5 separate regions of the Homo sapiens genome follow, and regions 2, 3, 4 and 5 are each reported to be linked to region 1. Evidence: microRNA targets listed by miRTarBase, many of them from high-throughput screens and not tested one by one. Region 1 holds a microRNA gene; each other region holds the end of a gene's coding sequence. Distances are from middle to middle.

What was found. The annotated mature microRNA hsa-miR-6787-5p reads UGGCGGGGGUAGAGCUGGCUGC and lies in region 1 at 3,097-3,118, opposite strand. An mRNA with a match to its seed (bases 2 to 7 or 8) in the 3' UTR can be bound and repressed. Matches are read on the target gene's strand: a 7mer-m8 pairs with bases 2 to 8, a 7mer-A1 pairs with bases 2 to 7 and ends in A, and an 8mer does both.
Region 2: miRTarBase lists ATL2 as a target of hsa-miR-6787-5p. Seed matches in the 3' UTR shown: 7mer-m8 at 2,636-2,642.
Region 3: miRTarBase lists EVI5L as a target of hsa-miR-6787-5p. Seed matches in the 3' UTR shown: 7mer-A1 at 2,996-3,002.
Region 4: miRTarBase lists AFG1L as a target of hsa-miR-6787-5p. Seed matches in the 3' UTR shown: 7mer-m8 at 3,695-3,701.
Region 5: the mRNA of UNK is a reported target of hsa-miR-6787-5p. Seed matches in the 3' UTR shown: 7mer-m8 at 1,268-1,274.

What each region holds. Positions count from the first base shown.
Region 1 is chr17:82,234,051-82,239,790 of GRCh38, reverse strand. MIR6787 (microRNA 6787) reads right to left here and starts at 3,123; the gene lies at 3,063-3,123. SLC16A3 (solute carrier family 16 member 3) reads right to left here. Exons shown (of 5, transcript NM_004207.4): 2 at 3,560-3,808; 3 at 2,919-3,062; 4 at 1,898-2,653; 5 at 1-1,089. The coding sequence starts at 3,782. The coding sequence ends at 815. It also overlaps a transcript of CSNK1D not described here. RefSeq lists enhancers at 220-990, 1,761-2,532, 3,357-3,546.
Region 2 is chr2:38,291,505-38,297,641 of GRCh38, reverse strand. ATL2 (atlastin GTPase 2) reads left to right here. Exons shown (of 13, transcript NM_001135673.4): 13 at 1,529-3,688. The coding sequence ends at 1,648. Among named protein-coding and RNA genes, the nearest start is that of ATL2, 83 kb to the left of the region's middle.
Region 3 is chr19:7,861,762-7,867,898 of GRCh38, reverse strand. EVI5L (ecotropic viral integration site 5 like) reads right to left here. Exons shown (of 20, transcript NM_001159944.3): 15 at 5,881-6,021; 16 at 5,622-5,777; 17 at 5,365-5,511; 18 at 4,832-4,927; 19 at 4,619-4,714; 20 at 2,923-4,475. The coding sequence ends at 4,197. Among named protein-coding and RNA genes, the nearest start is that of PRR36, 9.6 kb to the left of the region's middle. RefSeq lists silencers at 1,142-1,436, 5,145-5,414 and enhancers at 3,434-4,142, 5,237-5,874, 5,875-6,137.
Region 4 is chr6:108,520,874-108,527,010 of GRCh38, reverse strand. AFG1L (AFG1 like ATPase) reads right to left here. Exons shown (of 13, transcript NM_145315.5): 13 at 1,010-4,714. The coding sequence ends at 4,586. Among named protein-coding and RNA genes, the nearest start is that of FOXO3, 37 kb to the left of the region's middle.
Region 5 is chr17:75,823,937-75,827,936 of GRCh38, forward strand. It overlaps UNK (unk zinc finger), which reads left to right. Exons shown (of 16, transcript NM_001080419.3): 16 at 326-1,863. The coding sequence ends at 481. It overlaps UNC13D (unc-13 homolog D), which reads right to left. Exons shown (of 32, transcript NM_199242.3): 32 at 3,289-4,000. Among named protein-coding and RNA genes, the nearest start is that of UNC13D, 18 kb to the right of the region's middle.

The sequences.
Region 1 (5,740 bases):
AAAGGGAAGGCAGGAGGGTCCTGTTTCTTAAACACAGCAGTGAATAAAGTGGCTTGTTCCACCTCAGCTCCCATCTAACCACCACGTAGGGGCTCCCTGGCACATTTCAGAGGCCACCCTGGCACAGCGGCCTCCAGGCACCTGCCCCGCAGCCCCCTCCATGCAGCGCCTGCCCCTGCTACGAATGCTATGCCGCTGCAGGGAAAGCTGGCGAGGACAGAGCCACGGTAGGAACAGCCAGGCCATCAGCAGACGTGCGAGTCAGGACACAGGCCACACAGCAAAACCACATACTCCTAGGAAACCGTTGGTCCTAACACTCCACCCACACGCAGGTTTATTTCCATCTTCCAGGGGTGGAAAGAGCTGTCCCCAAGACACTCAAGAGGGGTGGGCACAGGCCCCATGTGAGCCCAGGGTAGGACGGGCTGGAGAGGGCCCCACGCAGCACCTGCCCTGCCAGCCTGTCTGCGGCCCACCCACCCTCCCATTAAAGTCACGTTGTCTCGAAGCATGGGTTTCCAGGTCCTTGAGCATAGCAGTGGCCGCAGGCCACCTGGGAGCAGCAGGCGGGGCCCCTGGTGAGGATGCCTTGTAACCTTGCGGCTTGGCTTCACCGCAGATCCACTCTGGAATGACACGGTTCCCACCCCGCCACCTTCCCCCTCAAAACACTGATCGGGCGACGATCCGCTGGGCCGGCAGCTGGAGCCCAGCCGTGGCCCTGCCTGAGCCAGTCCAGTTTGTAAAATAAATAGCAAGCGTTGCCGGCTTCTGTACCTCCTCCCTGTGCCTGCCGGCCCCGCCCAGCCACTCAGACACTTGTTTCCGGGGTGTGAACCACCTCCCCGTTTTTCTCAGGCTCAGCCTTCAGGAAATGCTCCACCTCCCGCAAGTCCACCCCCGAGTCTGCAGGAGGCTTGTGGAGCTTCTCCTCCTCCGCGGCCGCCACCTCAGGCTGTGGCTCTTTGGGCTTCTTCCTAATGCAGAAGAAGTTGCCCAGCAGCAAAATCAGGGAGGAGGTGAGCACCTCGGCCCCCGCCAGGATGAACACGTACATGTAGACGTGGGTCGCATCCAGGAGTTTGCCTGCGGGAAGACCCCGTCAGTCCCAGCCGCTCATGCGGGCTGCCCCCAGGGCCCACGGCTCCACCCAAGCCTGTGTCTCGGTGTCTCAGCACGCAAGGGTCACCCTGTCTGCCTCTGAGCTTGTGGGGCTGGGAGGTGTTCTCTCCCCTCCATGTGTTTCAGCTGGGGGCATCCTCCCTCCTCCTCAGGGGAACCAAGACTTAAGAGGCTAAAAATAGCAATGGCTTTGTGGAGTTTGGGTTTCGGTTGGTGGCAGGAGTCACGCTGGTCCCCACGGAGTCCCCCTGAGGCTTCCAGTCGGCAGCCCCAGAAGCCCTACTGTGTTCAGTACCAGCCCTGTGCCCTGGCCACCGCGGACTCCAAGACATGAGCCCTCCCCAAGCCCAGGACCCCCTCGCCAGGCAGGCGGAGCCTGGGCAAGGCTGCTCCAGTCAGAACTTAATTTCCCTCACGTGTTAGCTCAGTCATCCTTCAAAAAGGAGAGGCCCCAAAATGCAAAAGCCGGCTGTTGGGTTGCCTGGAGCTGCCGCGTGGTGCCCAGGCAGAGCCTGGAGGAGCTGCCCCCCCCCGGGCCCAGCCCCTAGCCACCCTGCCTGTCTGGACACACTGTGCCGGACGGAGCACCCCACTCCTAATGGAGACCCGCTAGCCCCAGCAGAATCAGGGTTGGTCCAGCACAGTGCACCCCCTCCAGCTCTGAGTCCCACACTGCGGGTGGCTGCCGAGGGGTGCGCGTCCCCCCCCTCGCAAAGCGGGCGTCTGACGGGAAGGGCAGGTGTGGGGAACTGCCTGGGGGCGCAGCGCTCACCTCCCGAAGGGGGCCCGACGAGCACGGCCACCGCCTCCATCAGCAGCACCAGGCCAATGGCACTGGAGAACTTGTGGGTGCCCACGATGGCCATGAGCACCTCGAACTGCAGGGCCCCCACCATGCCGTAGGAGATGCCAAAGAAGATGCAGAAGACCACGAGGCCGCCGTAGTCGCCCGCCGTAGAACCCGCCAGGTCCGCGAGGCCGTTGAAGAACATGGAGAAGCTGAAGAGGTAGACGGAGTAGGGCCGCACCTTCCCAAGCCCCGCCACGAAGCCCGCGGCCGGCCGCGCGAAGATGTCAATGAAGCCCAGGATGGTGAGCAGGAAGGCGGCCTTGGTGTCGGGCACGCCCAGGTCCTTGGCGTAGCTCACCACGAACACGGGCGGGACGAAGAGCCCCAGCACCATGACCGAGGCGGCCACGGCGTAAAGCACAAAGCCGCGGTCCCGGAAGACGCTCAGGTCTAGCAGGCGCCGGGAGGGTCGCGGCGGCCCCGAGCCCGGCTGGGCCGTGACCACCAGGGGCCTCATGAGTGCGGCACACACGCAGCAGTTGAGCAGCAGGCCGCCCAGGATGAGGAAGCCGCCCCGCCAGCCGTAGCGGTCCTGCAGCAGCTGCCCCAGCGGGCTCAGGGCACACAGGAAGACAGGGCTACCTGCTGCCGCCAGCCCGTTGGCCATGGGGCGCCGCTTGCTGAAGTAGCGGTTCAGCATGATGAGCGAGGGCTGGAAGTTGAGTGCCAAACCCAACCCTGGAGGAAAGGGAATGTGGTGAGAGCCCCCCAAGGCTGCCCCAAAGCCCGAGACCCTCATCTCTGCCCCCAGGTTCCCACAGGCTCAGGCTCCCAGGGTGCAGAGCCCCTGCCACCCACCCACTCGAGAGGGGGACAACGAGGTGGGGCCGGGACACCCCGCAGCCACCCGCCCTGCTGTCCTCCAGAGGCCTGGACCCAGGAGCAGAAGTGCACGGCCCCTGCCCCTCCTGGCACGTGCGGCCCACCGGCCGGCCCCACTCACCCGTGATGACCCCAGTGGTGAGGTAGACCTGGATGATGCTCCGGCAAAAGGACGCAGCCACCATGCCCAGCGACGCAAAGAGACCCCCCACAAGCATGACGGGCCGGCAGCCAAAGCGGTTCACGCACACACTGCAGAGCGGACCTGGAGAGGGCAGCAGCTGAGAGGGGCCGGGCCTGCAGCCAGCTCTACCCCCGCCAGCCGACTGAGCTCACAGCCTGGAGCCGGCCTCCCCTTCCCACACCACCCCTCCCCCCGCGGGGCACCAGGGGCACCCCGTGGGCAGGCTCCCCGAGCGCAGGCCATGATGACACGTGAGCGCCGCCTGCTGGGCCCCTTGGGTCCCTGCAGCTCAGGAACAGCCACCTTTTCAGGAACGGCTCTCAGGAGCCTGTCCTCTGAGACGGTCTATAAATACAGCCGACCCGTTTGGACAGGGGCCAGGATGGACTTCGCGCCCTGCCTGGGTTGGCCCCGTGGAGAGCATGTTGCTGCCCAGCAGGATCCTGGCCCCAAGGGCTTCCCTCCAGGGTTCCCTGGGGAGCAGGCGGAAGGCCCTGTTGCTGAGCCCAGCTACACGCGCCCAGCAGGATCCGCCAGCAGAGCCCCGGACAGGGGGCCCGGTGTGAGGCCACCCTCACCTGTCCCGTAGAGCATGGCCAGCAGGATGGAGGAGATCCAGGCTGTGTCGCTGTAGCCGATCCCAAACTCCTGTATGAGCTCCTTGAAGAAGACACTGACGGCCTTGGGGAAGGCGTAGGAGAAGCCAGTGATGACGAAACAGCCGAAGAGCACGGCCCAGCCCCAGCCGCCGTCAGGGGCCTTGACGCCTGTGGGGCCCTCGTCCACCACGGCCCCTCCCATGGCCAGGAGGGTTGGTTCCGCCTCACCTGAGAGAGAAAGCAGGCTGACTCAGGCTGCCCGGGTGACCATCCCAGCTGCAGCCTGGCAGGGGAGGGACACGAGCTGGGTGGCCCGGCAGCTCAGCTGAGGGGCAGCTGCCCGGCACCCACACTTGTGGCCCCCTGACCTGGTGTCTGGTGGAGGCAGGAGGGTTTGGAGGGAGGCTAGCAGCTGTGGGTCCCACTCCCTCTGCACTGCCTCCTGCACCCTCACAGCTGGCTCTAAAGGGCAGTGGCTTTTTTGGGCTCGGCCAGGACTCAGATTACCTCCTGGGACAAGCAGCCCCCGACAGGAACATCGACCTGGCCGTCATTTCTGCCCTGGCTCGCTCTGGCTGACCCGTGCTGGGCAGGGACCACGCACACCATGATTCTGGCAGCAGACGGCACCTCCGGTCCCCAGCACTGAGCTCGCCCCAGGACCTCTGGGGTTGGCATCCTCCAGGTCTCTCCCGGTCTAAATCTAGGTGGAGCGTGCCTTGCTCTGGCTCTCCTGCCCCCAAGGGCCCACTTTGGCTTCAGTGGAGCCCACCAGGAGCTTGCCCAAGAGGAGGCGGGCAGTCTCTGGCGGTGAGGGGCTGGGCCCCAGGCTGGAGGGGGCAGTTGGAAGCACAGGGGCTGCAGTATTAGAGTGGGTGGGGTGGGGAAGTGGGGGCAGAGCTGGCCCCTTGTCCCTGGATGCCCCCTTGCCTCCCACCGGCCCTCTTGCTCAGTGACTCCTCCAGTGAGATCTTGACTCACCCCACCTGTGCCTGGAGTGACCCATAGGCTGCAGCCTGAAATCAGGAGGGGCTAGGGAGGCTCCCATCCAGCCCACGAGAGCAAACCATGCCAGCCCCCACGATGTCTGAAGCTGGTGTCCCTTTCTAAACTCCAGGAGCTCAGCTCGTTTGAGTCAAGTTGGAACCCGAGGTCAGACTTCCATCTTCATGCCCCACCCCACCCAGAAGTCACCTTGTCCTCTCCTCACCAGGGAGCTGCAACCTGAGACCTTGGGTGGTCTAGTCCAACCGGCTCAGCCTCTCCCTGCTGGGACCGTGCTGTGAACCAGCGCCCTGGGAGGCAGCAGCAGGCCTGCTGTGCAAGCTCCACGCCCACCCACGACGCAATCTGTGGGGCTCCACCCCCACCCCCTTTCCTTGGGTTCCTCCTGCAAGCGTGTCCGCAGACCCCTGACCCGGTGGGTCCCCCGTGACGGCTCGTCTTTGCCTCTAAGGCAGACATGTAACTAAAGGCATGCACAAGGGCCAGGACCTTTGCTGGGAGAGTCTGAGCAGTTCCGTGCGTGGCTCCTCACTCCTCCTCCCGGGCCCTCCCCGCATCCAGCCTGCCTGCCTGTCCCCACCACAGGTGCTGTGCCCCCTGGAGTCCCTGCCTCAGAGGTCCGAGGATGGTTTTTAAGGGCTTCCTAAGTGTTCCACGAAGTCACTGTTACTGGGAAATGCTGCTTGACGAGGGGACCCAGGAGCCAGCTGTGGCTGTCTGGATGATGACAAGGCAGACACGGCCCACTGGAGCAGAACAGACCCCCCCACAGAGCCAGAGGTCCACCCCCCAACCTGCACTGGCTCTCTGGGACCCAGGCCTCGGAACCATTTCTGGGAAACCCGGGAGCAGCTTTTGCCTCTGCACCTGGACACCGGATGCCCCCACCACAGTGCCTGGGACAGGACAGAGTGTCGCACGCCTCAGGACACACCACCTTAGGACACACTGCCTGGGGTCACTGAGCAGCAGGGTAGGTCCCGCTCATACTGGTATTGTTTAAAAGGTCCCTAAGATGACAGTATACAGCAGGGTAACTACAAGATATTAAAAATATATGCACTGAGGCCGGGCGCGGTGGCTCACGCCTGTAATCCCAGCACTTTGGGGGGCCAAGGCGGGCGGATCACGAGGTCAGGAGATCGAGACCATCCT
Region 2 (6,137 bases), not on the chromosome of region 1:
TTACCAAGGAAACTTTGACCTTTGTGTTTTGGAAATATTAATTAGTAAAGCAAAGCGCCATGAACAGAGAACCATGCTCCGTCGTAATCTTTTACCTCGAACCAGAATTCAAAGCCCCAGGCTGTGAACTCTTGCCTGCAAGTATCTGCTAAGGAAAGCCATTTTGTGTATCTGCCTCCGGTGTGCTGGAATTACCTGTGGACCGCTTATGGATGTCATTAAGATGATCTTCGTGAAATACTTGAACATCATGTCAAGGACCAGAATGAAAGCTACGGTTATTAATGACGAACGCTATAATAGGCATTTGAGATGCCATTTTTGGGCTCATGAAATATTGAGCTTATTTTGAAGATCTAGGATATGCAGGTCCATGTTTGTTTTGGCTATAAACTTGAAGACCGAAGAAGCAGACCATTTTTTTTGAAGAAAGTTGATTGGATATTGACTTTTCTTGTAATGATGTTATTTTATAAAGTGACCCACTATATTAATTTGGATTTTGTGTTTACTCTTTAGAGAAATGCTCTATTCAGATCCGATTGGGAAGTTTATGTTTGGATATTTATTCTATTTAAATTTTTATCTCAATCTCACTACTTGATGTTTCTTTGATATCTTCTAATAGAAGATGGATGCAAAGCTATCGCAACTTCACTTTTAAGAAAAAATTAGCTATTTTAAAATTTTGGATCATTTTCTGCAATATAATTTTCAATAATTGTACAATATCTTCTTTTGAGAAATATTCATCTCTTAAACAGCATTGATTCTAGGATTTTGGAGGTACCATTATTACAAAACAATTAAATGGAAGAATCTAAAGTGTATAAAATCATTTTCAGTATAGTTTAGGTAAGGTAATCAGCTAGTCAGAGATCTGTGCTGTGTCAACAAACCTTGTCTAAATTTCTTTGCATTTCTCTTTTCTTTTGCTTCAGAGGAGTCCCAGGAAGGTGAGAAACCTACAGTCTCAAATTCTTGTAGTCTTAAACTCTTTAGCTTCGAGGCACTCTGATTCATTCTCCTAACAAATCACTTCATGTTTTAGGTGTTTTCCAAACTGTTTGAAGTTACTAGACGTCGAATGGTTCACCGTGCTCTTTCATCAGCACAGCGACAGAGACTGTCATCCAACAATAACAAGAAGAAAAATTAGACAGTATTTTTAACCTTTTTCTCTATCTGAAGTGTTCACACTTACACATGTAGGACAATAAGCAGGACCGTCTGGGCCGGTCTGCATAAATGCTGTATACATACCAGATTTGATGCTGCATATAGGGTATGGAATTGCACATCCATCTCATAGGAATTGTAAATGGTTTGAATAAGAGGAAAGTAATTTTTGTTGCATTATAAAATGTCTAGTAGCATCATAAGTTTTTTTGAGAGAAGCATCTTTTTATTTCCCATATTCCTGGTTATTTTCATCATTGCTTTGAATTGAATTTTTATATCTATTTTTATATGTAACTCTTTTTTTACCTCATGTTTTTGTTTGTTTTGCACATTTCTCATACCACAGGTATTGAAGCCCCTGGGTGATAATTTGATGGAGGAAAACATAAGGCAGTCTGTAACAAACTCTATCAAAGCAGGCCTGACTGACCAGGTGTCTCATCATGCCAGATTAAAGACAGACTGACAGTTCATCTCCTCACGGACTCCACTCTCTTTTTTTTTCATGCTTGCTGTACAATGAGAACTCAAATAAAAATAAACCAAAGTTTACAATCAACTGTAGAAGTAGTTTAGTGTAACTGGCTTCACAGATGGCTGCCACAGAGTGTGAAGATTGTTTGTTAGTTTTAAGCATTCTTTTAATGGCTCCTAAGACATGCAGATGGACTGAGGAGCATTGGTTAATCATGCACCTTTGTGCCATGTTTAACTCTTTTATTTCTTTTTACTTAATCTAATGTTAGTGAATTTGTCTTATGTAAAAGGATATTTCAGGGAAATATTTTCAGAAATCTATTTAGAGTCTCTTTAACACAGTGTCCCATTGAAATTTTAATTTTTAGAGAATTTATGAATCACTGTTTCAAGAACCAGATTGGAAAGACAATGAAGCCTTTATTGAGCCACTACATTAAAAGTATATATTGCTTTACTGCCTTCAATACCAGTATTACATCAATGCATGTATCAGAAACTTCACAGAAATTACATGGCAACTCTTGTAGCTAAGAAAGTAATTCTGAGGTGTACATTTGTCTTGCCTTTTTAAATTTATAAACTTGCCCTAAAAGGAGATGCATATCTGGGAAACTGAACTGTCTTTTTGCAGTTTAGCCTTCATGTATATAAAATATGCCATTAATTTTATTGGGGAAGAAATTCCATCCAAAAATGTTGCCTACAGCTATGAGTTAAGAGTGTCTGTACAGTGTGTAGCTTTTATTTTCTAAAATCACAGATAGGGCATGTATATGACTTATAAATATATAAATACGATTTTGTATTAAAAGTTTTGTAGTTTATGGCAAAATCTGGTCCTGTGGTAGGCTAAATAAGTACTGTCCCTGTGAAAGGAATGTTTGTGGCTCATGTCAGTGTGTGAATGCATAGACAATTTGAAGTTTTTGATATATTTGTGATATTTATCTTGAGCACTGCAATCTCACCCCCCCCCCGCCCACCAAGGGAATTCAATGGGAATGTTTATTGTGACTTTGTCCTCTGTTGCATTTTAAAGTTATTTCCTGTAATTTATTTTCAGTACATAATTAAAAATTTGTTGTATATATAAAATGAAACTTGTGATTCTTTTTTAAGGAATTTTTCAAGTATGTATTCCACTTCATAAACCACATTTGTTTATAGTGAAAAGAGCATGAGCAGGAAACACCCCAGTTGAGAGCTCTAAGGCATTGTACCTCAAAACTAAGCTTGTAAAAAGTTACTTTTCTGTGTCTGTCTCTATAAGGGAAAACCTATGATTAGCCTAGTTGTAGATGGGGATTGTTAATTTCTTTCTCTCTCTTTTTTTTTTTTTGGTGGTATATGTAAGGCTAGCATTTTTTCAGTACTTTTGTGGTCTTCTTTGTGAACACCGATTAAAGTACCTAGTTTTGTTTGTTTCTTTTTTGAGACGGAGTCTCTCTCTGTCACCCAGGCTGGAGTGCAGTGGTGCGATCTTGGCTCACTGCAACCTCCACCTCCTGGGTTCAAGTGATTCTCCCGCCTCAGCCTCCTGAGTAGCTGGGACTACAGGTGCGTGCCACCATTCCCGGCTAATGTTTTCTATTTTAAGTAGAGATGGGGTTTCACCGTTTTAGCCAGGATGGTCTCAATCGCCTGACCTTGTGATCCGCCTGCCTTGGCCTCCCAAAGTGTTGGGATTACAGGCGTGAGCCACCGCGCCCGGCCCTTAGTTTGCTTTTTAAGCGAAGAGAATGCAGGTGTTGAGTTGCATGTGTGAAAACTCTGAATTTACTTTGGTTGATACATCTTCGCTCCCACTCCCATTCAGATTCTGTTTTTATATGGATTGTATTTGTTTTCATCTGTATTAAATTGCTAACTTATCTGTTCTTAAAGAATCCACCTGAAAAGTGTCTTTTTATTTCTTCTGCCACCCTGTTTTATGAATGCTGTGGACTGTTTTTTATGAATGAAAAAATAATTTGTTGTATAATAGCAGATTTTCTGAAATTAAAGACAGCTTACTTTTAAAAAGTTATAAAATCTAGACCATTGGCTTTCTTACATTTCTTGTCAGAAAAGAGTGCTTTACTCAAAGAAGACAATTCTCTACAGGATTTAAGTCCATTTCACACTTTTAAGCTTTAGCCTAAACATTCATGTCCTGGATTCCCTCCTTTCCTCTAACTTGACCAGAATGGATCTGCGCATCTCAGGTTTTTTCCATTCGTGTGATAGTCGTGGAGTGAGGATGAAAATTAGCTTGAGTTGCTGTGCATCTGGTAGCCATCTTCTCACTTGGCCAGAGATTACTCATCAAATGACTATTGTACTTGGATTCTGTTGGGAGCCTCTGCCATAAAGAGAATGCGACTTTGGGGAGTCTTCCAGTTATTGGTTCCTGTCAAAGCTAGATTGGGGGTTTCCCAGGCAGCACAGAGAATTGCTCCCTTACCTTCTCTACTGAAGTCTTAGATCCTAGGAACTCCTGTCTTTCAGATTTACATTTTGCTGGAAGTTAGACCGAGGAATTGAGCTGCCCTTAATGTACTCAGTGAAATACAACTTTTATATCCTTTTAGGATCGTGAAATCTGCAGCCAAATGTATCAGCTGAATAGGTCCAAACTGCCTAGAGATACACATGAAAGGGCTTAGGGGAGGGAAGTCACAGCCTTTGCATAGCTCAATAAGGCACCTCCATACGTATGTTAGTACTCTCCATACTCATGGCAGTCCTGTGTGATAGATAGGAAACCATCAAAAAGAACCTTGGGCATCTCAGGCTTGCAACTTAGGACTCTACTACACACCTCCAGAAGTTTGAATCTGTTTGAAGCTTCAGACAATGATAAGTAATGTTCCCAACTCAAGATGCAAGGACTGTCTTGGCTGCATTCCTAGAGGCACTAAGTGGAGAAAGTAACATCTTGCTAATACCGAAACAAGCTGAAAATTACCCATAACATTACCACTCTAAAAAATGAATCGATGCAAAAAGTGAAAATGTTCCTGTCCATTTGATTGTACACCTGAGAGAGAACCATTACTTTGGTGTGTGCTATTGAAACCTTCCCTCTGCTTATTGACAAGTCTGTATATGCATAAAACATACTTGTTTTTTGTTTTACATAAAAATAGAATTATCCTGTACATGATGTTTTTTTTTTTTTTTTCATGTAATGGGATATTTTCCTAGGTCATTATGTAATTATTTAATGGTTACTTTGATTCTTAGGGTAGGTGGAGTTTTAAGGAGAGAACAATAGACCTGGGATCATTGCTGAGATGGCTGGGCTCTGTGTCCCCACTCAAAGCTCATCTTGAATTGTAATCCCCATAACCCCCATAATCACCAGGTGGAACTTGGTGGGAGATGATTGGATTGTTGGGGGCAGTTTCCCCCATGCTGTTCTCGTGATAGTGAGTTCTCACGAGATCTATTTGGTGGTTTTATAAGGGGCTCTTCCCTCTTCACTCATTCAATCTGTCTCACCTGCTGCCACGTAAGACGTGCCTCTTTGCCTTCAGCCTTGATTGTAAGTTTCCTGAGGCCTCCCCAGTCGTGGAACTGTGAGTCAAACCTCCTTTTATAAATTACGCAGTCTTGGGTATGTCTTTACAGCAGTGTGAAAATGGACTAAAACAACTGCTAAGAGTTTTCTTTTTATGACAGTTTTCCTCCTATAATAGGATTGTTGAGAGAATCAAATAAAATGTGAAGAAAGGGTGCTTGGGAAGCAGGTACAAGAACAGAAAATCGTGCCCTCAATTTTGCTTGTTTTAAGGCTGCATCTTCTGACTGTTTGGCCACCTGTACTTGAAGCTTGTCCATAACTTACTCCCCGACCACCCCCACCCCATCCCCGGCATTTGGGCTGTTATTTAAGAGTTCTCTAACTTTCTGACAAATTTTTATGGTAATTAGTAAACAACATACTCATTCTGGCCAAATGGGTCTGCAGCCCCTGACAAGAGAGGTCATCTAAAATGGCATGGTTTAGACTTGCCCGTTACAAAACATGAAGACTACCTAAAAACTCAACCTAGATCTGGAAGAATGCTTAAATTTCAATTCTAAGCAAAGGAGATGACCTTATGGTTAAAACTGAGCTTTGTTTCTAGCTCCACCACGCAAGCTTCATGAATTTGTGCTAACGCTTATATAGCAGTTGAGCCTCAGCTTCTTCATCTATAAAATAGGAATAATATTACCCCTCACAGATGTTAGGAGGATGTGATGAGAATTTCCACATCCTGGCAGACTTTTAAATCTTTTTTATGGCGTTGATATTTGTAAACAAACACCTGTCTTCTAAATCGTACTTATTTTTAACTTCCTCTGTTTCCTGAAGAGGATAAACAAGGTGAATTTTGGAGGATGGTGGTCATTGTTATTTTTGTCTATGGAAGAAAGCATTTGTCAGTACTTTCCCCTAAATGGGTTGAGCTCCTCGGAAAGAAGAAACCATACTTTGTGCACTTTTT
Region 3 (6,137 bases), not on the chromosome of region 1:
CGCGCCACCACACCCGGCTAATTTTTGTATTTTTAGTAGAGACACGGTTTCACCATGTTGGCTAGGCTAGTCTTGAACTCCTGACCTCAGGTGATCTGCCCTCAGCCTCCCAAAGTCCTGGGATTACAGGCGTGAGCCACCGCGCCTGGCCTGACACACTTTTCAAACTCGATGCGGGGAACTAGCACTCCTGGGGAACAGGTGGGAAGATTGGAGGGCACTGAGGCAAGGATGGGGGACCCCTTCCCATGGCCCTTCGGCTGGTGCAGGGTCCCGGGCCAACTGCCCTGGTAGGGGATTGCAGGAAGAAGTGGCCTCTCCCAGGTCTAGGTGGGAGATGGGGGAGTCCTCACACTGCACCCTGTCTCCAAGTGTCCTTACACAAGTGCCACTTGGTGCATCCCACCCCCATGGCATCCTTGCCCTAACCCCTTCCTCAGGCGTCCTTATCAGATTCCCAAACATCTTCACAGGCCCCCTCCAATCAGAGTTTCCTGCCCTTCCTCCCCCAATGAACCCTAACCCTAACCCCCAGCTCTGGAGCCTCTCAAACCCTAGCCAGTCTCTCCCTGTTCCCAGTGCCCCTGCAGAGAGCTCCCCTGCTAGGCCTTTCCTCCCCCGGGTCTCCTGCATGGCACCAAGAATGATGGTGACATCCCCAAGTGGGTAAGAAGACAGAGTAGGATCTGGCCTTGGGCCCTCAGCCCTGCCTCTGCCCCTGGACCCAGTACCCTCACACCATCCTGTGACCAGGTTCCTGTCAGTCACAGACCAGCAAGTCCTGCCTGTCCCCATCCCAGACAAGGCACCTCCTAGCCTGGGGTCTGAGGAGAAATGGGCTCTGGCCTGGAGGGGCACTGCCACCTGCACCCCTGGGAGGTGGAGGAGGAGGACGCCAGCACAGTCCTTCGGTCAGAGTTTTGTGGCAAACCATAGAGGTGTCCTCTCAAGCTGGGCCCTGGTGGGGTTGGGGACCTGGGTGTCTTTGTTTCCAGACTCTGGGACAAGCCCAAGGCCGACTCCTGACATGCTGGGGAGCTGGGGCTCAAGGCCAGCTGCCGGGAAGGACAGGGCAGAACCTCAGACAATTCCTCTGCGGTCCTGCCCTGACCTGGGCAGCCAGCGGGGGTGGAATTACCATGGAAGCAGGAGGCACGGACAGTGACTGTGAGGGTCCCCAGGGTTACATCTGCACCATGTGTGGCCAGGAGAGCTGTGGCATGTGATACGACAGTACATGGGACTTGGCTGTCTCAGTACACAAGCAGTGTCATGTCCTTTGCTTGGCTGTGAGGCATGGGGGTAGGGAGCACTTTGTGGACCCACACTGGGTGCAGAGGGCAGGTCCTGGCTAGCATCTGCCTGAACCCAATTATGTTTCTGCCTCTAGGGGCTGCGCACCGTGTCTCCCGCCTGTAATCCCAGCACTTTGGGAGGCCGAGGAGGGCAGATCACCTGAGGTCAGGAGTTTGAGACCAGCCTGGCCAATATGGTGAAACCCAGTCTCTACTTAAAAAAAAAAATACAAAAATTGGGCCGGGCACAGTGGCTCATGCCTGTAATCCCAGCACTTTGGGAGGCGGGTGGATCACCTGAGGTCAGGGGTTCAAAACTATCCTGGCCAACATGGTGAAACCCCATCTTTACTAAAAATAATACAAAATTAGCCAGGTGTGGTGGCACATGTCTGTAATCCCAGCTACTTGGGAGGGTGAAGCAGGAGAATTGCTTGAACCTGGGAGGCAGAGGTTGCAGTGAGCCAAAATCGCACCATCGCACTCCAGCCTGGGCAACAAGAGTGAAACTCCGTCTAAAAAAAAAAAAATTAGCCAGATGTGGTGGCAGGCGCCGGTAGTCCCAGCTACTCAGGAGGCTGAGGCAGGAGAATCACTTGAAACCAGCAGGCAGAGGTTGCAGTTAGCCGAGATCGTGCCACTGCACTCCAGCCTGGGTGACAGAGTGAGACTCCCTCTCAAAAAACAAAACGAAACAAATTAGCCAGGCACGGTCGTAGGTGCCTACAGTTTCAGCTACTCTCGAGGCTGAGGCAGGGGAATCACTGGAACCCAGGAGATGGACGTTTCAGTGAGTCGACTGCCTTGAGTTCCTCTAGGAAGCTTTGCTTTGCCACTCCTGGCTCTGTCCTCCACCCCGCCACCCACCGCCACCCAGCAGCTGGGACTCTGCCTCAGCTCTGTGGGGAACCCCACAAAGGACTATTTCTGCCCCCTACTCACTGTCCTCCCTGCACTGGCCCCCTCACAGACTCTGTGGTCCATCTGATGGGGCTCTCTTACCTAAGCCCTCCATGGGCTCCCAATGGCCCCCAGTTCAAAGCCCAAACTCCCTCACCTGACGTAAGCAGTCCCTTCTTAGTCTGACCACGCCCAGGCTTTCCTGTTCTTCCTTCCTAGGTATGGTATGCCTCCTGTTGGTCTGATCTTTATGCTTTTACCCCTCGAAGAGGCCCTGACACCACCTCCCCCAGGAAGCCTTCCCTGATCTCCCTGCACATTTGTCTATTGAGCACCTACCACATTAGTGCAGGCTTCCCCCTGCCCAGTGCCTGTCTCCTCTGCTCCACTGGAGACCCCCTCAGAGCCAGGCACAGGGCAGAGTACCCCACATTACCCCTGGAGGCGTGAGCAGAATGAATGCAACCGGGTCCTGTGCTTCCTGAAGCCCAGCGATTCGGCATGCCTCTCTCCTTCAGGGGAGGCCCAAGTTGATTCACCCAGGTGGGAAATCATGCCCTGCCCCCAAACTGAATGCCCTTCTATCCTCTCCCACCCCCATTCTATGAGACTGTGGGGAGCTCCTAAGGGCAAGGACAGCCCCACCTTCCCTCAGCACGGTTTTTGGTCCCTGGGCTGGGCACCCACCGCTGCTTGTGATTCTCCTCCCAGCCCGCAGGCCAGTCCGTGACTGTGTAAATACACTTTATTTTCCATTTTTCCCGCCTGGGCGACATGTGAACAGGCAGTGTGCAAAATGGTGGCGGGCAGTGTAGGGGGCGTGTGGAGAGCCCCGTGGGTGCCTGCCCCGGTCCCCAGGCTTCGTAACACTGAAAAGTGGGCAGCTAGGAAGCGGGGACGGAGCAGGGGTCCCCACCCAGGAAGCGCCAGGGAGATTGCTTGTGACGCTACTCTACTGGAGGCTCCGGGAGCACCGAGGGGGGCAGCCCCCAGGGTCATGAGGCCCGGGGGGCCGGGGGAAGGGAGGAAGGGGCCTGGGGGGCATCGTTGGATTTTGGCACCGTTCTCAGCTCTGATTCAGCAGAGACAACGGGACCACCAGGAGGAAGTGAGGGGAGGCCGCTCGCTGGGAAGCTCCTGCCTGGGGGCCTGGCTCTGGCTGAGGGTGGGGCTGGAAACACATGAAGAAAGGGAAGTAGATGGAGACCGAGGACCCCTGTAGAGATACCCCTCCATCACTGGCCAGGATAGGGGGCGCGAGTGTCTCCCAGAGAAAGATGTGGGGCACTGGGGAGAGGGGTCTCTTCACTTCCTGGAAGCTGCTCTGGCCCCAGAGAAGCAGGGAGGCTTCCCGTTAGCCACTCAGTCCCCAGGCGCCCCGCACATAGTAGGGGGACTTTGGTTTCCGCTGCAGGGGCCACGGTGCCTGCGCCAGGCAGGAGAGGCCGGCCTGGCCATCTGTCCCCAGCGGCCTGACTCCCCTAGAGATGGCCAGGGGCTAGTCAAGGGTCACTTCATCCCGAGGAGTGTTGTGGGGTGCTGATGTCCAGCCCAGAGCTGGCGCTCTCCTTCCTCAGGCCTCGGCTACCTCCTGAGCACTTCCCAGCAATGTCGCCCCTGTCCCAGAAGGAAGCCTGCCAGGAGGTGGGAGCTGCCTGCTCATTCAGTGCTGGGACCTCTGGGTCGTCTGTCCCCTGCCCTCTGCCCTCCTGTTAAGAGAGCAGTCAGCCCCTCCAGGCACCCCTGGAACGCCAGAGGGCCCGGAGGGGTACAGACCAAGATGGGTAAACACTGCTGGGGATAGAGAGCCTGCCCCGGGGCCCTGAGGAGCCCAGGTCGGACCCTACCCTCTGCGCTGCCTCGCCGGGCCTCGCTTTAGGGGTGGCCGAGCCACAGAGGGCGCGTAGTTTGTCAAGTGCGGCAGGTGGGGAGCAGAACGCGGACTGCCCGGGCGCCCCCCGCGGCTGCGGCCTCCTGACTCCGGGCGCGCTGGGCATGGCCTCAGTTGTCCAGACCCTGGCTGTAGGGCGCGGCCAGCTCATCGGCGTCGCTGTCTGAGCTGCCCTCGCTGTCCTTGGCCGGCCGCTCCAGACGGCGGAAGAAGCGCGCATCGCGCGGGGACAGAGGGTACAATGCGTCCTGCAGGGCAGCGCCCACGCCTACGCCAAGTAGCTCCTCGTCCGACGACGGCAGCGAGTCCTCGTCCAAGTGCCGCGCCAGGCTCAGCCCATCGAAAGCCAGCGGGTCCTCGAAGGGCGGCGGGCCCTTCAGCAGCCGCACCTGGGGCGGGGGACCGGCGCTGCAGGCGTGGACCGGCCTTCTGCCCCGCCCTCCCAGCCGCATCCTCCGCAAGGCACCTGCGCTCGGCTCGTCCCAGGCCGACGACACCCAGGCCTGTCCCCGGCATCCCCGCGCCGGCTCACCTCGGCCTTCAGCTCCTCGATCTGGTCCTTGAGCTCGCGGATGTACTGCGATGAGTCCGAGTGGTTCAGCTGGCCCTGGATGCGGCCTTCCTCCCTCTGCGGGGTGCGCCAGGTCACGCGGGGCCAGTGCCATGCTGGGCCTGGGGTCCGGCCCCGCTCCTGCCCCGGGCCCTGCCCCCGCCCCCGCCCCCCGACCCCGGCCCCGCCGATCACCTGGATCTCCAGCTCGGCAATGCGCTGCCGCATCTCGGCCACCGCAGCCATGCTGTCCGCCTCCCGCAGTCGCACAGCCATCACCTCCTCCTTGCTCTGGGGTCGGGGGATTGGGGGGAAAGGAGGGCGGGTCAGGGGGCGCGGCGCATCAGGGGGCGGGACCGCGGGCAGGGGCGAATGAGGAGGCGGGGCCGCGGGCGGAGGCGGGTCAGGAGGCAGGACCGCGGGCAGGGGCGGGACCGCGGGCAAGGGAGGTGCGGGCGGGGGCGGGTCAGGAGGCGTGGCCGCGGGCGGGGGCGGATCAGGAGGCGGGACCGCGGGGGGGGGTGGTCAGGAGGCGGGGCCGGATCAGGAGGCGGGGTCGCGGGCAGGAGCAGGTCAGGAGGCGGGGCCGCGGGCGGGGGCGGGAGGACCGCGGGCAGGGGCAGATCGGGAGGCAGGACGCCGGCAGAGGCGGATTGGGGGCGGGGCCTCATGTAGGGGCGCGTCCGGGGGCGGTGCCACGGGCAGGGCGGGGCCGCGGGGGTCTGCACCTTGCACTCGGCCTCGGCCTGCTTGCGGCGGCTTTCGCTGAGCTGCGTCTGCAGCCCCTTGTTCTGTGCAGCCAGGTACTGCAGCTTCTCCTGCAGCGCCGCGCGCTCCGCCTCCACGCGGTTCAGAAGGTTGCGGTGGATGTGGTCCTGGGATAGGGAGGAAGGGAGGACGGAGGACGGCGGCGGTCAGGGCCTAACTCAGGGGCTGGCCACGGACACCACGCCCCTTCCCCAACGAGCAGGCCCCCCGAGTCCACCTGCGTCTCAAGTTCCACCACGCGCTGCCGCAGCTCGCGGCCCTCGGCCAGGGCCTGGGCCTCGCGCAGACGCACGCTCATCAGCTCGTCCTGCAGCTCGCCCACGACCAGCTTCCGTGGGGACTCCTTCCAGCGGCCGCCGCGGGCCAGATGGGCCTGGGGGGTGAAGCCGAGAAGCCGGCGGTCAGCCTCCGCCCAAGAACCCCGAGGGGATGGCCCTAGGGGGCGCTCTGCCCGCCGGCGCCCACCCGGCCCTCACCTGCCAGGTGTCCGAGAGCTCCTGCAGCTGCAGTTTAAGCTCTCGCGTCGAGGCCACCGCCTGGCCTTCCCGCACCTTGAGCGCCTTCAGCTCCTCCTGCAGCTGCGCCACATTGTTCTCGTCGGGCAGCGAGCTGTTCCTCTGCGGGAAGAGTGGGGTCAGGGCCTGGGGGAGCAGCGCAGCCGCATGGCCCTTCCTGCAGGACAAACGCCCCCAGCCACGTTTCCTCCTGAGCTCTGCCTTGGGCGGCTCAGATG
Region 4 (6,137 bases), not on the chromosome of region 1:
AACATTAACAAGTGCTGATGCTGGGGCCCCACATCTGACCCACCATACCTGACCCTGGATGTGGACCTAGGCCTAGGAATGTGTAGCCTTGAGAACCACTGGCCTTTTTTTTTTCTCCTGTCAGTTCATCCTACTGACCACAAGATGGTGCCCTCTTTCTGGGAAATCTTTGATGTTCACCAAACAAGCAACAATTCATTTTCTGTATTAATCCTGAAAACATGGATTTGAATTTAACAATCTTCTCCAGCATCTCATTAAGCCAGACCCGTGTGCTCTTGGTGTCTAGCCATTTAATGCGTATCTTTTCCCTTCTGTTAGAAACCAGTGGGTTGGAATGTGTCTTCTGTTTTGCATTCCTCAAAAGGCTATAACACAAAGCAGAAAGTAGGATTTATGATCATAATCATTAGTATCAATAACAACTGATGTTCGTTTAATCCTTTGCCATTTGCAAAGCGCTTTTCACCAACAATCCTCATAGTAACTCTATGAAATGGGCATTATGATTCCCATTTATAAGATGACACAACTGAGGCTCAGAGCACTATCTTGGTCGAGGTCACAAAACAATAATTAGCAGAACTGAATTTTCCAATGCCAGATCTCAAGCCCTTTCCACTGCATCATTAGAGACCAGCAATCAACCACCGGGAACCCAGAAAGTACAGCCCTGAGACAGGAAAATTCTCGGGACGACATCCAGAAAGCCCCCTAGGCAAGCAGGTAAGACAGACTGATGGCTCCATGCAGCACAGACGAAAGGTCAGTGGACAGGCATGTTTGACTGGACCGAATGACCAGCTAGGGCAACAGATGTGAGGGTCCTAGTGAGCTGCTGGACTGAGTCAGTAGACACTCGACAAGAGGGCAGATTTTAACATTTGTAATTTTCTGTTCCAGAAAAATGAACTGCTATATGCCAATAGGGAACATTCATCTTAATTCTGACTGTAAAAGAAGTTATAAACTCATTTCCAAAGAAAATCCTTTCCTACCAGCAAGTGACTTCTTTTGAGATTAGTAAATCTAATAAAGGTAACTTACAGACTTGCTGCAAGACAGATTCCCGTAACTGATCAAGAACCCAAATGTCAGGGACCCAGGCGCCCAATCCTTCTGCATGTTTTTAATCTCAGATAAAGCAGCCGTCAAGTGTAGGTTCAAGTTACTTGGACCAGCAATACTGTTTTCAGGACAGAGGCAATGAAATGGAAAATTTAATACGTTAGCACTTTGCTAATTTTATTGACTTCGGTTATATCTTAGCAATTCATTAATCTGTTTTAGCTGTTTTCTGTGTCTCAGCTTCCCTGTCTATAAAATGATTATAATGGCACCTATCTCATAAGACTGTTATATGGATCAAAAGAGTTTATTTATAAAGCACATAGAACCATGCCCAGGACACAGAAAACATCATGTGTTTCTTAAATAAATAAATGGATATAAGCACATCCACTTATTTTACAAGTGAAATTTTAATTTTTTTCAATATTCCAACTAATTTTAAAATTATGTCATTTGCACACTTATAAGTACAGGAAATATACTTTAAGAAGATAAAAGTATTGCCTTATTATTAAAATTTGAAGTCCCACTGAAAATGCATAAATTTGATTAAAATAATACTACAGTCTTTTTGGCCTCAGAAATAGGTTAAAAATTACTTAAGTCCATCCTGTTTTTCATCTCAGGATTAGTGATATCAGCAAATAAGCTCATACACTGCCTAAAGAAATATGAGAAGTGATAAGATTTTTCTTTTTCTTCTCTAAAGAAAGTTTTCCTTTTTCTCCGCTTGACCTCTGTTAAGTCTGGGAACTAGTCATCAGTTTGGAGAGCACCCTTGGCACATGATGTTTTCTCCTGACTCTAAAGACATCCCCCCGGTCTGTGTTTTGAATTGAGCAGGAGCTTTCCACAGCAGTACTCAGCTCAAACCTCCGTCTCAAAGTATACATTTAAAGCATTTCAAAAAAAGAGCATTTGCTGAGAGACTTCTATGGAGAAAGACTGGAATGCTGAGAATGTAATAGGGGCAGGGCTCAGAAGAAAGACATATAAAGTGAAATGTTGCTCTCCAATCTAGGGGTTGTTTTTCATGTTGGCATTACTTTTCTTTTAGTAGAGCTACCATACTGTTTCCTAGTGATGGCTATTCTTGAAGACTTGGGTTTTTTTCTTGCATGCTATTTTATGAAACCAGCTTTGGAGATTTCCAGCCACCATGGAACTCCCTCCCCTCCAGAGATCCAGCCAAAGCCTTCTAGCCCCACTTTCTGCATAAACCCTTCTCCCAGCTCAAAGAGCCTCTTCCACTGCAGCCAATCCCAGCAGGCCCCTGGAACTGGGGAAGGAGATTGCGGATTGGGGGCACAGAAGTGGGCACATGCTCCAGTTACTTAGGTGGAGACTGAGCTACAGTTTTTTTCTCAGGGTTTAAGTTCTTTCGTACCAAAATGACATTATAGGGAAGCTACACTGAGAATTACATAGGCTTCTATGCGTTTGACCAGCACCCCAACTAACATTACGTGATTGTTTCGATGGAAAAATGAAACTTTATTCCCAATATCTGACCTCAGATGAACTTTTATAACATAACTTGACAGGGGGACTCTTCTACATACACTCACACTCAGGGACAGGTCTGTCTATCGGTCATACTGTCCATCTATCTGTCTGTCCATTCACATGATTTTTTTAAAAATTAAGATACAGAATAATTACCAAAGGAATGTGAAAAGTAAAAAGCTAAGATCTAAAGAATAAAGTTAAACATTTTATATTCACTGAGTTCAAATCAATGGTTCTGTTGTGAATTTATCTTCAACTTCATTCACTGAGTTAAATGAATCAATTTTTAAAACAATCTCTTTTTTTTAAATAGTAAGAGTAAGAGACAGTGTGTTATAAAATATAGTATATGAGTTTTGTAGTTGTAAACTGTGAATCTCAGGTCAAGCTACTTAACTTTCCCAAGACTCAGTTTTCTTATTTTTAAACAGGGGTTATAATATTCACTTTCTAAGACTATTTTTTTTAACTGAGCTAATGTAAATATATAGCATTCAATCCAGCACAAAGTGGTTATTTCCCATCCTTTCTCCCTATTACGTAACCTCTTTGAAATTACTGTGTTTCACTTCAATAAAAATATCTTTAAACCACATTTTATTTACAGAAGGCTTGATTTAAACTCTTCTCTCGGCTTGGGTACTCATCCATCTACCTGCTTGCCTTAATTAGGTTAATATCTAAAAGAGACTATGTGATGGATTATTGACTAAGAAATTAAATAGGGCCATGCTGTGCCACACTACCCCTGCCAGGAGATGGCTAGAGTGGCCAAGATATAAAAAATAAAAATAATAATAAATAGAAAATAAATAGGTTCAAAGAGCTTACTTATGTTGACCATTGTATTCATTGGACTGACTCACCTATGCCTTACCTTCCCCCAAATGCTTAATTTTCACAAGATTTTGTGGATTTTATATTTTTTCTGTTTTTCACACTCATCCACAGCCGAAGATCCACTTTGTGACAATAGTTAGTAAAGCCAGGTTTTACTCAAAGAAGCAAAAGATGAGCTCAGTGAAGGACAAATCAGATTTCCTGTGAAGCAGGCTTGTCAGGCTTTCTTTCCTATTTCCTATTAGGTCCATCTCACGGCAGAGTTGGCGGCAAGGGCGGGGGCAGCATGCTGCAAGGAGAGCAAGTGTCTACAACAGTGAGAAGGAGCCTGCTGTCCACTGGGGTACGGCTGGCCTCATGTGAGCGGGAGTCTCCTCTGCTGTTGGAGTGCCTACGACTCTGACACCCACCCCCCCGCCCACACTCTCTCACTGGTCCCCATTCCTGGCTGCAGAGTTTGTAGCTCTGCCTGCAGATCTGCCTGTTGGCTGGAATTTGACACTTGCTCCTTATTTGATCCCATCATAATTTTCTATTTTTTTTTAGAAAACTTTGTGACCACTTGAGATCAAGTCCTGCCTACTAAACTTGATCTCAGGGTTAAAAACATATTCTTCCATTATGTAGAAATCTGAAGGCCTGGGAGATTTACTGTAATTCATAACCAAAAAAAAAAACCACATATAAGCCCATATTCTAAAATATTATCCCTTTTAGTTTATATCAGATTGGAAAACTGTCTTTGTTTTGAATTGAAACATAGGGCATTCTTCCCCCATTATAAAAGATGTATTTCTAACATGCCACCACCATGCAGCCAAAGCTTGAAGGTATCCAGACGTCTTGCATTTACTTGTGCATTCAAGGTTCATTCAGGTGGTTTAATGTGAAGCTAAAATGTCTGGTCCTACATTCATCTTCAGGAATGAGATGATTTTAATTTCATGGTGCAGAAATAAGGCCAAATAAGAAAAAGCAGACCTAAAAAATGTTAAGTGTTTAACTTACTAATCCACTAGATCCTTGAGAGCAATTTTAGATTAAAATGGTCCAGAGGACAAAGTGCATAATTAATGATGAGAAAATGATTCCTTCAAGTCCCACAATAAGGAGTTCTGCCTGCGTTAACCATTTGTCTAGAGTTTTATTTATGCAAAAGTGGCAGTTACTTCTTGGTTCTGTCTCCTTCATTCCAGTACTGTTCAGTCTGCATTTCCGTGAGTCGGGAAATTGTGCGCTGAAATGCAAAGATTTCCTCTTCTCCGGTAAACATGGAGAGTCCTTCTGCTGAATCCTGGTTATAAAACAAAGAAATTAAAATAAAGCTATCACAAATGAAAATTTACAGAACCTAAGTATAGGTTTAAAAAAACTTTTTAGGCTTACCGGTTTAGATTATGCCTTTTTTTATAACTTTTTTTTTCCATATACAATCTCTTAAATGAGACTAGAGAGTCAACCAATTTAAACTGATAGGCAGTAAACACATCAAATTATCAGAGAGAAAACTTAAAAGGGAAAACTTTCTCCAAAAGTGTACACCAGAAATAAGTAATGGCAAAAAAAAAACCAGTAGTTCTGAGAAGCTAGAAAGAGGCTGGTGTAGGCCTCCAGACAGGGTCCCAGTGCCTAAGGGGGAGGCCCTAAGGACAAACCTCTGGAGAGCGTTTTCCAATCCAACCAATGACTAAAGGAGAGCAAATGCAAATGAGCAGTGGGTCTGGGTTCTGGAGAATGTGCCTGGGATCTAAAAGCCAGGGCTGAAAGGCAGGGCTGTTTTTAGTCTTCAGCTGCTGGGACAACTGATCCCACCATCTAGGACCAAATTGGGAAACTCTGTCTCTGTGAGGCTGGTAACCCCAGACTGGTGATACCAACACAGACTCATGGCCACTAAGTGGGCTTGGAATTTTTCTCTTTCCTTAGGGGTTTGCTAGTATGCTTTTTCAGAGAAAAATTCTAGATTCCTAAGTCCATCTTCTCCACTGATCCATTGTGAACCTTCATGACCCTGAGATCACATTCCCTGATTTCTTCATGCATGATTGGCTCTGTCTGCTGAGCTTATTTTTTCTTGATCCTAGGGGAATTTGAGATAGGGTCTCACTCTGTCACCCAGGCTGGAGTGCAGTGGTGCCATCTTGCCTCACTGCAACCTCTGCCTTTTGGGTTCAAGTGATCTTCCTGCCTCAGCCTCCCCAGTAGCTAGGATTACAGGTGTGTGCCACCACACCCAGCTAATTTTTTTTATTTTATTTTTTATTTTTTGTAGAAATGGGTGTTTCACCATGTTGCCCAGGCTGGTCTTGAACTCCTGAGCTCAAAGCAGTCTGCCCACCTCGGCCTCCCAAAGTGCTAGGATTGTAGGAATGACCCATTGCACCAGCCTAGGGGAAAAAAGTTTTAAGAGCCAATGATGTAAACTTTACCAACCTTTTGGCACCAGGGGCCAGTTTCGTGGAAGACAATTTTTCCATGGACCAGGGGCAGGGGGATGGTTTCAGGATGAAACTGTTCTAGGTTAGAGCTGAATGTTTATGTACATCCAAAATTCATATGCTGAAATCCTAACCCATAAGGTGATGGTATTGGAGGCGGAGCTTTTGGGAGATGATTAGGTCTTGTGGGTGGAGCCCTCATGAATGGGATTAATGCCTTTATAAAACATGCCCCAGAGAGATCCCTCACCCCTTCCACCATGTGAGGTTTATACAGAA
Region 5 (4,000 bases), 6.4 Mb from region 1:
TCTCGGGCAGCCAAGCCCCCGGGTGTGGCCCTGGGCATGTCCCAGCCCTTTCTGGGCCTCATTTTCCCCATCTGGGGATTACAAGGTCAAATGAGACTGGGCGAAGCCTCTCTGAGGGGTGGGTCTTGTGGCAGCCTGGCCATGCCCCATGCAGAGGTGGACTCAGCCTGCTCTCTCACCTGCCAACAGGGGTCTGGGAGCACACTGTTGAGCTCGGTACCTCAGTTTTCCCATCCCAAGGGGCTGCAGTGAGGATCAAGGGAACTCCTCGCTCAACTTGGGGCCAGACCCATGGATGGTGACCACGATGCCCCTTTCCCTGCAGGCCGTGTTCCACATGCAGTCGGTGAAATGCCTTAAGTGTCAGGAACAGAAGCGGGCAGTGCTGCCGTGCCAACACGCTGCGCTGTGTGAGCTCTGCGCTGAGGGCAGCGAGTGCCCCATCTGCCAGCCTGGCCGGGCCCACACCCTCCAGTCGTGACCCTGCAGGCCTGGCCCAGCCTGGCCCAGATCTTCTCACCTAGGACTTTTTAAAGTATATATATATATATGAATATATATATATATGTGTATGTATGTATGTATATGTATATGATTATGTATATGTATACATTTCCGTATGTATGTATATGTATACATTTCCGTATGTGTGCAGGTATGCGTGGTGGTGTGGACAGTGTCTGTGTGTATATCTGTACATAGATATAGACACACACTTTAAAAGACTTACCAAGCACTTTTTAAAAGAAGAAACTATTTTGCAGTCCTCCCCTACCCACTCCCTGCCCTTCCCACTGCAGAGATGACATCCCCTCTTCTCCCACTGGCCTTTTGGCAGAGAATCTGGTTCTGTCTCTTTTTTAATGTAGGAACTAACTATTTTTAACTTCTTCCTGGGGCCTGAGCAGGGAAGGGTGGGACTGGAAGGCACTAAGGGGAAGGGAGAAGCCCTCAGGGCAGGCCCTGCTCCCCCTACCTCCTTGCCAGGGCAAGGGTGGAGTGTGGAAGACGTGGGTCCCCCAGAGCAGGCCTGGCCCCCAGCTGTGAGGGCCTCAGGGAGGCCCGAGGGGGAGTGCTGGGGGTCTCAGCTGGCTTAGCTCCTAAGTTTACCAAATGTTAATTTAGTCTTGGGGAGAACAGCAAGGGCTGGAGGCCAGTGCTGCAGGGCCAGCCCCACTCCTGACACCTGGGCCCTTGAAGCTCCTTGAGGGGCAAGGCCCAGGAGTTCCAGCCCTCAGGTTCCTGAGGGTCCACCCTCAGTCCTTCCCCCCGCCGCCCCTCCCCGGACTCCCCACAAGAGCCTCCCTGGCCCCAGGGCCGCCTACCAGGCTGGTACTCATTCTATGACCACCGCCCCCAACCAGCTGCCCCCAGCTCTCCCTGCCCCCTCCCCTCTCTGGCAGCTAGCAGGGCAATTGGCGGGGAGGAGTGCGGACTGAGGACTGAGGACCAAGGGGGCCCAGGCCCTGCCCTCCTACCCGGAGGGGCTCCGTTTGCATTCCTTGGTGCTCTCTGAGTGCAGCTGGTGTCCCGCCCTGTTCTGGGCGGACGCCTGTGTGCGTGTGTGTGTGCCTGTCCAGTGTATATTGTGTCTTAGCTTCCATTTTAAAAATTGTTCTGTACAGAGAGAGATGCAGCAGGGGCGGGAGGGCAGAGTGGGCGGAGGGGAGCAGCCGCACCCCCAGCACCGGGTGTCTGCGGTAGGAACAAGAGGGCTGAGAGGGTCTGGTCCTGGCCCAGGCTCCCCCTTGGGCTCAGCACGAAAGGGCTTTCAATGAATTAAGTGAAAACTTTTTCCTTTTTTACAAAAATGCAAAAATCAACAAAGCTCCAAACCTATTGGAAATAAAATATGAACTTGCAGTGGTAGCTTGTTTACATGGGGGTGAGGGGGAGTGGGTCCCAAAAGAGGGCCTCTGAACTATGAGGTGGGCCAGGAGCCTTGCCTCAGCCATGGAAACGGCTGCTGCCCACACCCCTGAGCTGTGGTAAGGCAGCTGGAGAGGGCTGGAAACTTCCTGGGCCCATCAGGCCCCAAGACAGTTCAAGTGCTCTCCGACCTAGGCCTAGCGGTTGATGACACAGGGACCCTTAGCCTTGGACACAGAGGCCCCCCAGGCCCTAGGACTCTTTAGGGCTGTGTGGTCAGCGGTGACTGGCAATAGGGCCCGTAACTGTTTCTCAGAGGAACAGTGTCTTCCCAACTGGGCATGGTGGCGCATGCCTGTGGTCCCAGCTACTAGGGAGGCTGAGGTGGGAGGATCACTTGAGCCCAGGAGGTCGAGGCGGCAGTGAGCCATGATTGCACAGCTGCCTCCAGCTTGGGTGACAGAGTGAGATCCCATCTCAAAAACAAAAACAGGCCGAGGCGGGCAGATCACTTGAGGTCAGGAGTTCGAGACCAGCCTGGCCAAAATGGTGAAACCCCGTCTCTACTAAAAAAAAAAAAAATACAAAAATTAGCCAGGTGTGGTGGCACATGCCTGTAGTTCCAGCTACTCAGGAGGCTGAGGCAGGAGGATCCTTTGAACCCGGGACGCAGAGGTTGCAGTGAGCTGAGATTGCCCCATTGCACTCCAGCTGGGCGACAGAGTGAGACTCCATCACAAAAACAAAAAACCCAGTGCCTTCCCATTGGGATGATTTGCTGGTAGGACCCAGAGGAAGTCCTGCCTTCTGCCTTCTTCACCCTACCCTGCCCCTGAGGGATGAGGGGCTGAGGCCTAAGAGGTACGTCCTCCCTCCCACCTCCTCAACTAGGCTGTGCGGTGGGGGGTGAGAAAACACCCTGGTGGGATCCTCTTTGCATGGTCTCGGGCCTTGGATGTCATCTCAGCTAACCTCGACTCCTGTCCTCATTTTGTGCAGACTCAGAGGTTCCGACATGGAACCAGGGTCACACAGCTAGGATGACGTGATGACCAGGCCTCAGGTTCTGACACCCCCCAGGCAGGGGAGGGACCCAGCTCCTCTACGCCCTACTGTCTCAAGAGCAGCCCCTCAGCCTCAACCTGCACCCCTGGGAGGCCCCTGCTCACTGTGCTCCCCCGAGGAACGGGTCCCTGTCCTGGGTGTCACCACAGGAACTGGTATGCCTGGTAAAGCAATTTATTCAAAGCCCACGGCCAAAAATCACCCTAGCCCTGCCTCTGCCTCAGTTATTTCCACACCTACCCCCCTGCTTTGTAGCTACCCCAAGGTGGCGGTAGCTCAAAGTCCCCTGAGGGCTGGGGAGGAAGCTACCCGGCCTGGCTCGCATTCCAGGCCCCACTGTAGGCCAAAGGCATATTTTAAGAGGACAATGGATTTGTTTTTATTAATTTTTTTGCTAAGAAAGTTTCTAGGTGGCAGGTGCTGTCCGGGGAGGGGGCGTGCGCAGCAGACACAGCAGCCAAACTGTCCTTTCTGCTTCCGTCTGTCTGTGCCAGCCCTGCCGCCTGCCAGCTCTTGCTCCCTCAGAGCCAGAAGGTTCTTGGCTCCAGGCTTCCTGGCCTGGATGCTGGCAGCCCCTGGGGAGAGGACCCAGGCCCCCTCTAGTAATGGCCACCACCCTCCCCCCAGGGCAGCTGGAGCCTCATCTTTGGCAGGGTCCCCTCTCCCTTTTCCAGGAGACTCTGTGCCTGTAGCCCTGGTCCCAGTGAACCTGGCCCCCACCCCAGTGGCTGGAACAGGAAGGCCAGGAGGCAGATGGGCCAGGGCCAGGAGACAGATGGCCCAATCCCCTGCCCACCACAGCAGCTTTTCTGAGAGGCGGGCAGGGGCAGGGTTTGCTCCCCCTGGTGCTGGGATGTGGTAGAGACATTGCAGCCAGGGCTGGAGGCAGGGAGGCGGGAGTAGAGATGTCGCTGCTGAGCCCCCATCACCATGGGAGGCAGGGGAGGTCTGCACTCTGGGCACTCCGCATGCTGGGGCTCCCCAAGTGTTAGGCCAGGCTGGAGGGCCGCGATGTGGCGGGGAAGCCCCAGACCCTACAGGAAAGCCCTTGCAAGTCCCCACCGGG